3 separate regions of the Homo sapiens genome follow, and all the other regions are linked to region 2. The links come from fine-mapping of genetic effects on gene expression. A gene starts in region 2. Each other region holds a variant in brackets. All regions are shown on one strand. Distances are between the middles of the regions. Region 1 has its middle 8.9 kb from the start of PRR14. Region 2 holds the start of CFAP119 (cilia and flagella associated protein 119). Region 3 overlaps FBXL19 (F-box and leucine rich repeat protein 19).

Region 1 (2,841 bases), 120 kb after region 2:
AGGCTGAGGCAGGAGAATGCTTGAACCCGGGAGGTGGAGGTTGCAGTGAGCTGAGATCATGCCACTGCACTCCAGCCTGCCCGAAAGAGCAAGACTCTGCCTTAAAAAAAAAAAGAAAAAAAAGAAAAATTTTTATAGAGATAAGGGTGGTCTCGCTATGTTGCCCAGGCTAGTCTTGAACTCCTGGGCTCAAGTGATCCTCCTGCCTCAGCCTCCCAAAGCTCTGGGATTACAGGTGTGAGCCACTGGGCCTGGCCACACGTCTTAAAAAAAAAAAAAGTTTTTTTTGTTTGTTTGTTTTGTTTTTTCTTTTTTGAGACAGAGTCTCGCTCTGTCACCAGGCTGGAGTGCAGTGGCACAATCTCGGGTCACTGCAACCTCCGCCTCCTGGATTCAAGCAATTCCCCTGCCTCAGCCTCCGGAGTAGCTGGGACTATAGGCACGTGCCACCATGCCCAGCTAATTTTTTGTATTTTAGTAGAGACGGGGTTTCACCATGTTGGCCAGGCTGGTCTCAATCTCCTGACCTCGTGATCTGCCCACCTCGGCCTCCCAAACTGCTGGGATTACAGGCATGAGCCACTGTGCCCGGCCAAAAAAAAAAAAAAAAGTTTTGAACACTCCTTTTACTCTGATGAAATTAATGAATAGATAAATAAAACATCTATAATACTACTTTTAAAAGTCAATATAGGCTGGACACATTGGCTCATGCCTGTAATCCCAGCACTTTGGAAGGCCAAGGCAAGCAGATCACCTGAAGTTGGGAGTTTGAGACCAGCCTGGCCAACATGGCAAAACTGCGTCTCTACTAAAAATACAAAAAATTAGCTGGGCATGGTGGTGTGCACCTGTAATCCCAGCTACTCAGGAGGCTAAGGTGTGAGAATTGCTTGAACTGGGGAGGCAGAGGTTGCAGTGGGCCAAGATCGTGCTGCTGCAGTCCAGCCTAGACTCTGTCTCAAAAATAAATAAATAAATAAATAAATAAATAAATAAATAAATAAATAAATATTACAGGCTGGGCGCGGTGGCTCACGCCTGTAATCCCAGCACTTTGGGAGGCCGAGATGGGTGGATCACCTGAGGTTGGGAGTTTGAGACCAGCCTGACCAACATGGAGAAACCCCGTCTCTACTAAAAGTACAAAATTAGCTGGATGTTGTGGCACATGCTTGTAATCCCAGCTACTCGGGAGGCTGAGGCAGGAGAATCACTTGAACCCGGAAGGCGGAAGCTGCAGTGAGCCGAGATCGCACCATTGCACTCCAGCCTGAGCAATAAGACCGGAACGCCATCTCAAAAAATAAAAAAATAAATAAATAAAAATAAAATAAAAAATAAATGTTACAACTACACGGTGGGCATGGTGGCTCACAACTGTAACCCCAGCTACTTGGGAGGCTGTGATGGGAGGATTGTTTGAAGCCAGGAGTTCAAGACTCCCATCTCTAACAGAAAATAAAGAAAAATAAATTGAACTAGTGGTTACTCTTGTGGTAGGGTAGTAACTAGGAGGGACATGAG[C/GAGC]CTTTAGGATGCTACAGATGTTTTGTTTTGCTTTGTAGAGACAGGGTCTCTGCTGGAGAGAAGTAGAGTAAAGAAAAAAAAAAGGAGGGAGGGTCTTGCTCAGTTGCCCAGGCTTGAGTGCAGTGTTGCGATCATGGCTCACTGCAACCTTGAACTCCTGAGCTCAAGCAATCCTCCCACCTCAGCCTCCTAAGTAGCTGGGACTACAGGTGTGAACCCCCATGCCCAGCTAAATATATATGTATATATTTTTTGTTTTGTTTTGTTTTTGTAGAGAGGGGGTCTCACTCTGTTGTCCAGGCTCCTCTTGAACTCCTGGCCTCACCCATTCCTCCCCAGCCTCAGCTCCCAAAGGGCTGGGACTGTAGTCATGAGCCACCACACCCAGCCAATGTTTTGGTTTCTTGATATGGGTACTGGTTTCTTGATATGGGTGTGTTTACTTTGTGACAATGCATTGAGCCTACACTTAGGGTTTGTGCACTTTTCTGTATTACATTATTCTTTAAAAAATTTTTTAAATACGCTGGGAGCAGTGGCTCACGCCTGTAATCCCAGCATTTTGGGAGGCTGAGGCAGGCAGACTGCTTGAGTTCAGGAGTTTGAGACCAGCCTGGGCAATATGGCATAACCCTGTCTCTAAAAAAAAAAAAAAATTAGCCAGGAATGGTGGTGTGAGCCTGTAGTCCCAGCAACTCCGGAGGCTGAGGTGGGAGGATGGCTTAAGCCCAGGAGGCAGAGGTTGCAGTGAGCTGAGATGCCACGACTGCAATCCAGCCTGGGCAACAGAGCCAGAACCTGTCTCTCTCTCTCTCTCTCTCTCTCTCTCTATATATATATATTTTGGCTGGGCGCAGTGGTTCATGCCTGTAATCCCAGCACTTTGGGAGGCCGAGGCAGGTGGATCACGAGGTCAGGAGTTCAAGACCAGCCTGGCCAATATGGTGAAACACCATCTCTACTAAAAATACAAAAATTAGCTGGGCATAGTGGTGCATGCCTGTAGTCCCAGCTACTCAGGAGGCTGAGGGAGGAGAATCTCTTGAACCTAGAAGCGGAGGTTGCAGTGAGCTGAGATTGCACCACTGCACTCCAGCCTAGGCAACAGAGCAAGACTACATCTCAAAAAAATAAAAATTTAAGTAATGTATATGTCAGTATGTAATGCTTGGGTAGGGCTTTGCTAGGAGATTTGGTGAAGTTGTCATATTGAAGTTGTCATATGCTTGTACCCCCCATTTTTTCCCCACTACCTTTTTCTTCCAATTAAGCTGAGCTTCCCTGAGTCCTGAATAATCCTTTCACCTCCCAATC
Region 2 (2,841 bases):
TCTCCCAGAACTTAAGCTCCCCAGATCCCAGCACTCTGGTCCTACCTCTCAGCTCTGATGTCCCCGGCTCTGGGAGAGGAGTCCCATCACATGTTGGCCCCTCCTGGGTCCCAGGTGCCTCAGGCGCTGAAGACAGCTCCCCCTGGCTCTCATGGCATCGGAGAAGGGCTTCCACAGTTTCATCCAGCTGGAAGGAGAAAACATCAAAAATGTTATGAATCCCTTAGTGCTTTCCAACATGATACTCCTTTCCTAGCAGGGGAATCTGGGGATTGGCAGCTGAATCAAGGCCTGGTCTTTGAAAGCAGAAGGTATCCACCTGGGCCCAGTAGCGATTGACGATGAGGAGTGTGGCATCATCTGTGGCCTGCCGCTTCTCCAACTTCTCAATTCGTTCTCGGAGTTCATCTTCACAAGCCTGCCGTTGTTCCAGCCGCTCTGCCAGTTTCTTGTTCTTGAACTGTAGTACCTTCAGGTCCATCTCCTCCTACCAAAGGAAACAAAGGGGCCGACGAGAGCGTCAAGCAGGGCCCACAAACCAATCACAGAGAGAGAAAGAGGAGCAGAGCATCTGCAATGCATGGGAGATGGAGGTATTCCCACACTAACCGCTAACAGAATCTAAGGAGGCTCAGACAACACACAGCGAAAGTGTCTTTGTTGTGAGGAGGCTCACGTTGTTTCTGCCTGTCCCCTTGTAAATCCTTAGTCTTTGACAAGTCACACGCCCCCTGGAAACCTGTTTTCCTATCTGTAAAGGGAAGACAGGCGTCGTGTTCTGAGCTTCTTTCTAACCTTTCTTTCAAGGTCCTGTAACGCGGACCTTGCTAAACTTGGGGAAGTGGGTGTAAGATTCCGCACAGTTTGGCCAGAGAACAGAGGGAGGGCTCTGGGAAGTTCTGAGGGTTAAGGCAAGAGCCCACGAACCGTGGAAGAGATGCCTCCAAGACGAATGGGCTCGATAAGAGTCGTGGTGGTCTTCTCCTCACGACTCAGCTTCTTTTCCGGGGGCCCTGAGCCCCCGTCGCCGGCGGCGCGTTTGTTGCCTGGCCCAGACATGGCCGCGGCGGCTGGAGCGATGCAGGGTCCCCTGAGGGGCGTCAAACGGGAGGAGGCGGTACTTCCGTCACCTGCAGAAGACACAGAGCAGAGATGTGGGAACGGCTGGTGTTCCACAGCCCCAAACACCCTCCACCCTGCACACACCTGCTGGATCCCGTCCCCCCCGGCGCCAGAGCCCTCACCAGCAGGAGGGTCAGCCTAGCGCCGCCATCTTGGATTTCACCGGACGTCACTGGGCGTCACTGGACGCCACTGCCCCCCCCCCAACGGTGCGCAGGGCGCAGGCGCCAAAGGCAGCCCCGGATGTGAGGAAACTTCTTTATCTTCTGCTTCTATTGGTTACGCTTGGTCCCGCCACTCGGGTCCTCTGGCTTCTTCCCAAACACCTCCTCTTTCTCTCGGTGATTGGCCAAGAGGCAGTTCCCATAGTAACTGACACCGCGCTCCCACTTCCCAGCCTGGAGGACAGCACCGGCCCTCGTATTAGCAACCTGGAAGAGAGGGCGCCCAGGTGGGCACTCGCAACTTCTCACGTATCTGCGCGTTCTCTTCGCTCCCACTGGCGTGAGCCTGCGCTTTCCGCCTTCCTTCCCTCACAAGCCCCCTTGGCAACCGTCGCCGTTGAGACGGAGGGAGACGCCCCCACGGATTCGCCCCGCCGCGCCTCTCCGCGCGTAGATTGGCCGGAGCGAGGCGAACGGGCCCGGCCTTGGTAGCCGCCGACCGAGCGCTGGCTGTCCTGGAACCTAGGCGGCGGGAGCCCGGGGCGCCTCGCGGCACGGAAGAGCGGCGAGATGCTCAACCGCAAGACCAGCCACTTTTTGGGAATGAGGGTGCAGTCGGAGCTTGAACATCTCTCCGAGCTGCGGCGGGAAGCGGGGAAGGATCGCAGCTCAGTGCATGGGTCGGCCGCGCGGACGCGTGCGAGTGTGCGGACTCAGTGGACGACGGCGGCGGCGGCGAAAGCGGATGAAGACCCCGGAGCCAACTTGTTTCCGGTGAGGGCGGGACAGTCTGGTCTGCTCGTGAATATTTATAAACCGGCTCCCCCGCAGGCGCCACCTGTCATTATGCTTACTAACGTTCGGGACGTCTCCCGGGCTGCTTGGGCGAGGAGAGGCAGGGGTGTGTGACCCCGGTGGTTACTGTGCTCGCGTAGAGCACCTAGGGCCTGCTGAAGCCCTCCCTCGCCCGCGCCTCTCCTTAGTCCTTGAGATGAGATGGCAAGTTACAGCGGCTTCTCCGGCCTGCTGGAGATTCGCTACGGGCCAGGACACCGCAGCTGCCTTCCCCAATTCGCTTTCTTTCCGCAGCCGCCGCTGCCCCGACCCCGGATCTGCATGTGGTGAGTGTGAAGAGACAAAAATTACACTGAATATTTGCGTTCTTTATTGTCTCCCCAACAGTCCTGTCTGTGGCCAGGGCATCCCCATTTTACAGATGAGACTGAGGCCTGGAGATGCAATTACTCCAGGTGACTGGAAGTTGGCTTTCCAGCCTCTCCAGTCCAAAGAGGAGGCAGTGTGAGAAAAAAAGAGCCAAAGACAGAATGTAAATGGAGTCTCATGGCCGCTAAGGAGTATTGTACAGAGGGGGACACTGAGGGCCACAGGGAGTACTTGACCAAGGTCATACAAGGTAGTGGCAGAGCAGAAAAAAGAATTCAAGATTCCTAACCCTAGGCTTTAGAAATGGAGAGGCTCATAAGAGTTCATTTAGGCCCAGAGAGTTAACGATTTGCATAGTCACACAGCAAGCTGGCAAAAGAGCCCAGCTTCA
Region 3 (2,500 bases), 170 kb before region 2:
TTTCTGGCATTCTAGCCTCTCCCTCTCCTGATTCCTTCCTCTCAACTAATAAACATCTGCAAATCTCTCCAATTCAAAACATGAAAAGGAAAAAAACCAACTCATGCCCGACCCAGCTTCTACCCCTAGGTCCTGCCCCTTTGCTCTTTCTGTGAGCAAGAAAATCGGTGACATCTGCTCTATCCAAAACCTCTCTCTGCCCACTGTGACCCTGCCACGACTGCCTCCCAGCTTAACTGTCACCACTTCCTTGAAGCCACTTCCCTTCCACGGTCCACAGCTGGAAGGAAGCCCCTTTCCCTGGGGGCACCCACAGGACCCCAGTTGTGTTTCTGTATCATACTCCACAACAGCCAGGCCACACACCTGCCCACCTATAGACACAGTGCTGTCTGATGCCAACACGTTGTGGCACATGCTGTGCCTCTGCCAGAAATGCCAACCCAGAGCCTTCGTGGCTCGGCTCCAGTGCCTCCTCTTCCAGGAAGTCTCCCACACCTTCCTTGGCTACAGCTCATCAGTCCCCCTGCTCTTGTACAACCAGGACACTGGGGTTAAACCTCAGAGGGACAACCAACAGTCACTGAGGGCCCTACTGATCCCAAGTATCTGGCTTCCACTGGGCACGGAGGAGGCAAAGATGACAGGTTCCTGCCATACAGTCAGGGAGACATGGACAGTCCGCAGTAACTGAGGTGACAAGGGGCATGGTAAGAGTCACCTCAAGGACTGGGTGGGGGAGCCTCCTGGGGGGACAATGCCTGACCTGAGACTCCGAGGAAAGCAGTAGTTATTTCAGCAAGGGGAGGGGGAGGAGGGTGTGTGTTCCAGATGGGCAAGAACCTGTGTCCAGGCCCACAAGAGACAAGACGGAGAGCTCTGGAAACCCCAGGCCACAGGAACTCATCATCATAACCAGAGTCACGCTGATCACAGTGACTTCAGCACTACTAACCAGCCATCATCCAGGGTTCACTGTGTGCCAGGCACTGTCCCATGCATTAAGCACTGAACCTCACGCCAGCCCTAGGAGGTCAACATTACCATCATCATCTCCTTTCTACAGTAAAGAAAATGAGGCAAGCGTGTGCGGTGGCTCACGCCTGTTAATCCCAGCACTTTGGGAGGCCAAGGAGGGCGGATCACGAGGTCAGGA[G/AGGAG]TTCAAGACCAGCCTGGCCAACATAGTGAAACCTCGTCTCTACTAAAAATACAAAAATTAGCTGGGTGTGGTGGCACGCGCCTGCAGTCCCAGCTACTCAGGAGGCTGAGGCAGGAGAATCACTTGAACCCAGGAGGCAGAGGTTGCAGTGAGCCGAGACCACAGCATTCCACTCCAGCCTGGGTAACAGAGTCAGACTCTGCCTCAAAAAAAAAAAAAAAGGTCGGGCGCGCTGGCTCACGCCTGTAATCCCAGCACTTTGGGAGGCTGAGGCAGGTGGATCATGAGGTCAGGAGGTCGAGACCATCCTGGCTAACATGGTGAAACCCCGTCTCTACTAAAAAACAAAAAAAAAAAAAAAAAAAGAAAAAAAATTAGCCAGGCGTGGTGGCAGGCACCTGTAGTCCCAGTTACTCAGGAGGCTGAGGCAGGAGAATGGCGTGAATCCGGGAGGCGGAGCTTGCAGTGAGCCGAGATTGTCGCCAGCCTGGGTGACAGAGTGAGACTCCGTCTCAAAAAAAAAAAAAAAAATGAGGCCCAGAAAGGTTGAGAAATGTATTCAAGGTCCCACAACTACCAAGTGGTAGGTAGTAGAGGCGGGGTTCCACCTAGCCCGTCTGGGTGGAAAGCCTGAATTCTGAGGAGAGAAGAGGCAAGAGTGGAGCTGCAAAGGAGGGATGGGTGTCATGTCAAGGAGGGCTGGAATGCCAGGCCATAGACTATCATGGTCACAGAGCCCAGAGCTGAGGATGTGAGCTATGGGGATCTAAATCCCAGCTCTGCCACCTCCAGGCTTTGGGGGGCCTCAGGCAAGTCACTCGCCCTGTGTGGGCTTCCATTTCCCAAACTGTACAGTGGGGTGAAGAACAGCGCTTCCTTCAGAGGTTGCTGTGACAAGGAAGGGACACAGCTCAGGGAAGTGGTTGGTGCAGTCGGTAGGCCCAGTTCATGTCCATATGTCCAACAGGACTGCGATGGTGGGCGTCTGTTGTGAGGGCGACAGGGAGCCACAGGTGGGTTCTTTCTAAGCTGGAGAATGACACTGAGACAAGAGGCAGGGAAAGCTCTAAGAGCCAAGGTGTGCCGTCGTCCCAGAGACATGTGGCTTGATGCCAAAGTCCCCTAACCCATTCACTTCCTCCTGGACTCCAGCCACCCCGCAATGAGTCCTCTCCTACTAGGCCGACCTGCAAACCCTCAATTCCAATCCTAACCCTCCCTCTTGCAGAAGCCCCCGGGAACAGGGAGCTGGACCAGCCCTTACTGCCCTCTGAAGGCTCACGGCCCCTAGGGCTCCAAGCACTGCCAGTTCCGACCTCTTGTAGCTCTCTGGGCCCCGATGCT

What was found. PIP is the estimated chance that this variant, and not a neighbour inherited with it, causes the effect.
Region 1: its variant is the best candidate, but not a certain one, in a credible set for the expression of CFAP119 in lung (TOPMed, PIP 0.52).
Region 3: its variant is the best candidate, but not a certain one, in a credible set for the expression of CFAP119 in whole blood (TOPMed, PIP 0.58).

The regions. Positions count from the first base shown.
Region 1 is chr16:30,640,646-30,643,486 of GRCh38, reverse strand. No RefSeq gene overlaps it. Among named protein-coding and RNA genes, the nearest start is that of PRR14, 8.9 kb to the left of the region's middle. The variant C/GAGC (reference allele first, on the strand shown) is at 1,528.
Region 2 is chr16:30,760,764-30,763,604 of GRCh38, reverse strand. It overlaps CFAP119 (cilia and flagella associated protein 119), which reads left to right and starts at 1,543. Exons shown (of 9, transcript NM_001014979.3): 1 at 1,543-2,060; 2 at 2,376-2,407. The coding sequence starts at 1,857. PHKG2 (phosphorylase kinase catalytic subunit gamma 2) reads right to left here. Exons shown (of 10, transcript NM_000294.3): 10 at 2,429-2,841. RNF40 (ring finger protein 40) reads right to left here and starts at 1,283. Exons shown (of 20, transcript NM_014771.4): 1 at 1,245-1,283; 2 at 928-1,130; 3 at 320-487; 4 at 46-187. The coding sequence starts at 1,059. RefSeq lists enhancers at 965-1,074, 1,195-1,454, 942-1,579, 1,535-1,714, 2,305-2,454 and 1 more and a silencer at 1,991-2,220.
Region 3 is chr16:30,935,623-30,938,122 of GRCh38, reverse strand. All of the region lies in intron 7 of FBXL19 (F-box and leucine rich repeat protein 19), which reads right to left. Among named protein-coding and RNA genes, the nearest start is that of ORAI3, 12 kb to the left of the region's middle. The variant G/AGGAG (reference allele first, on the strand shown) is at 1,157.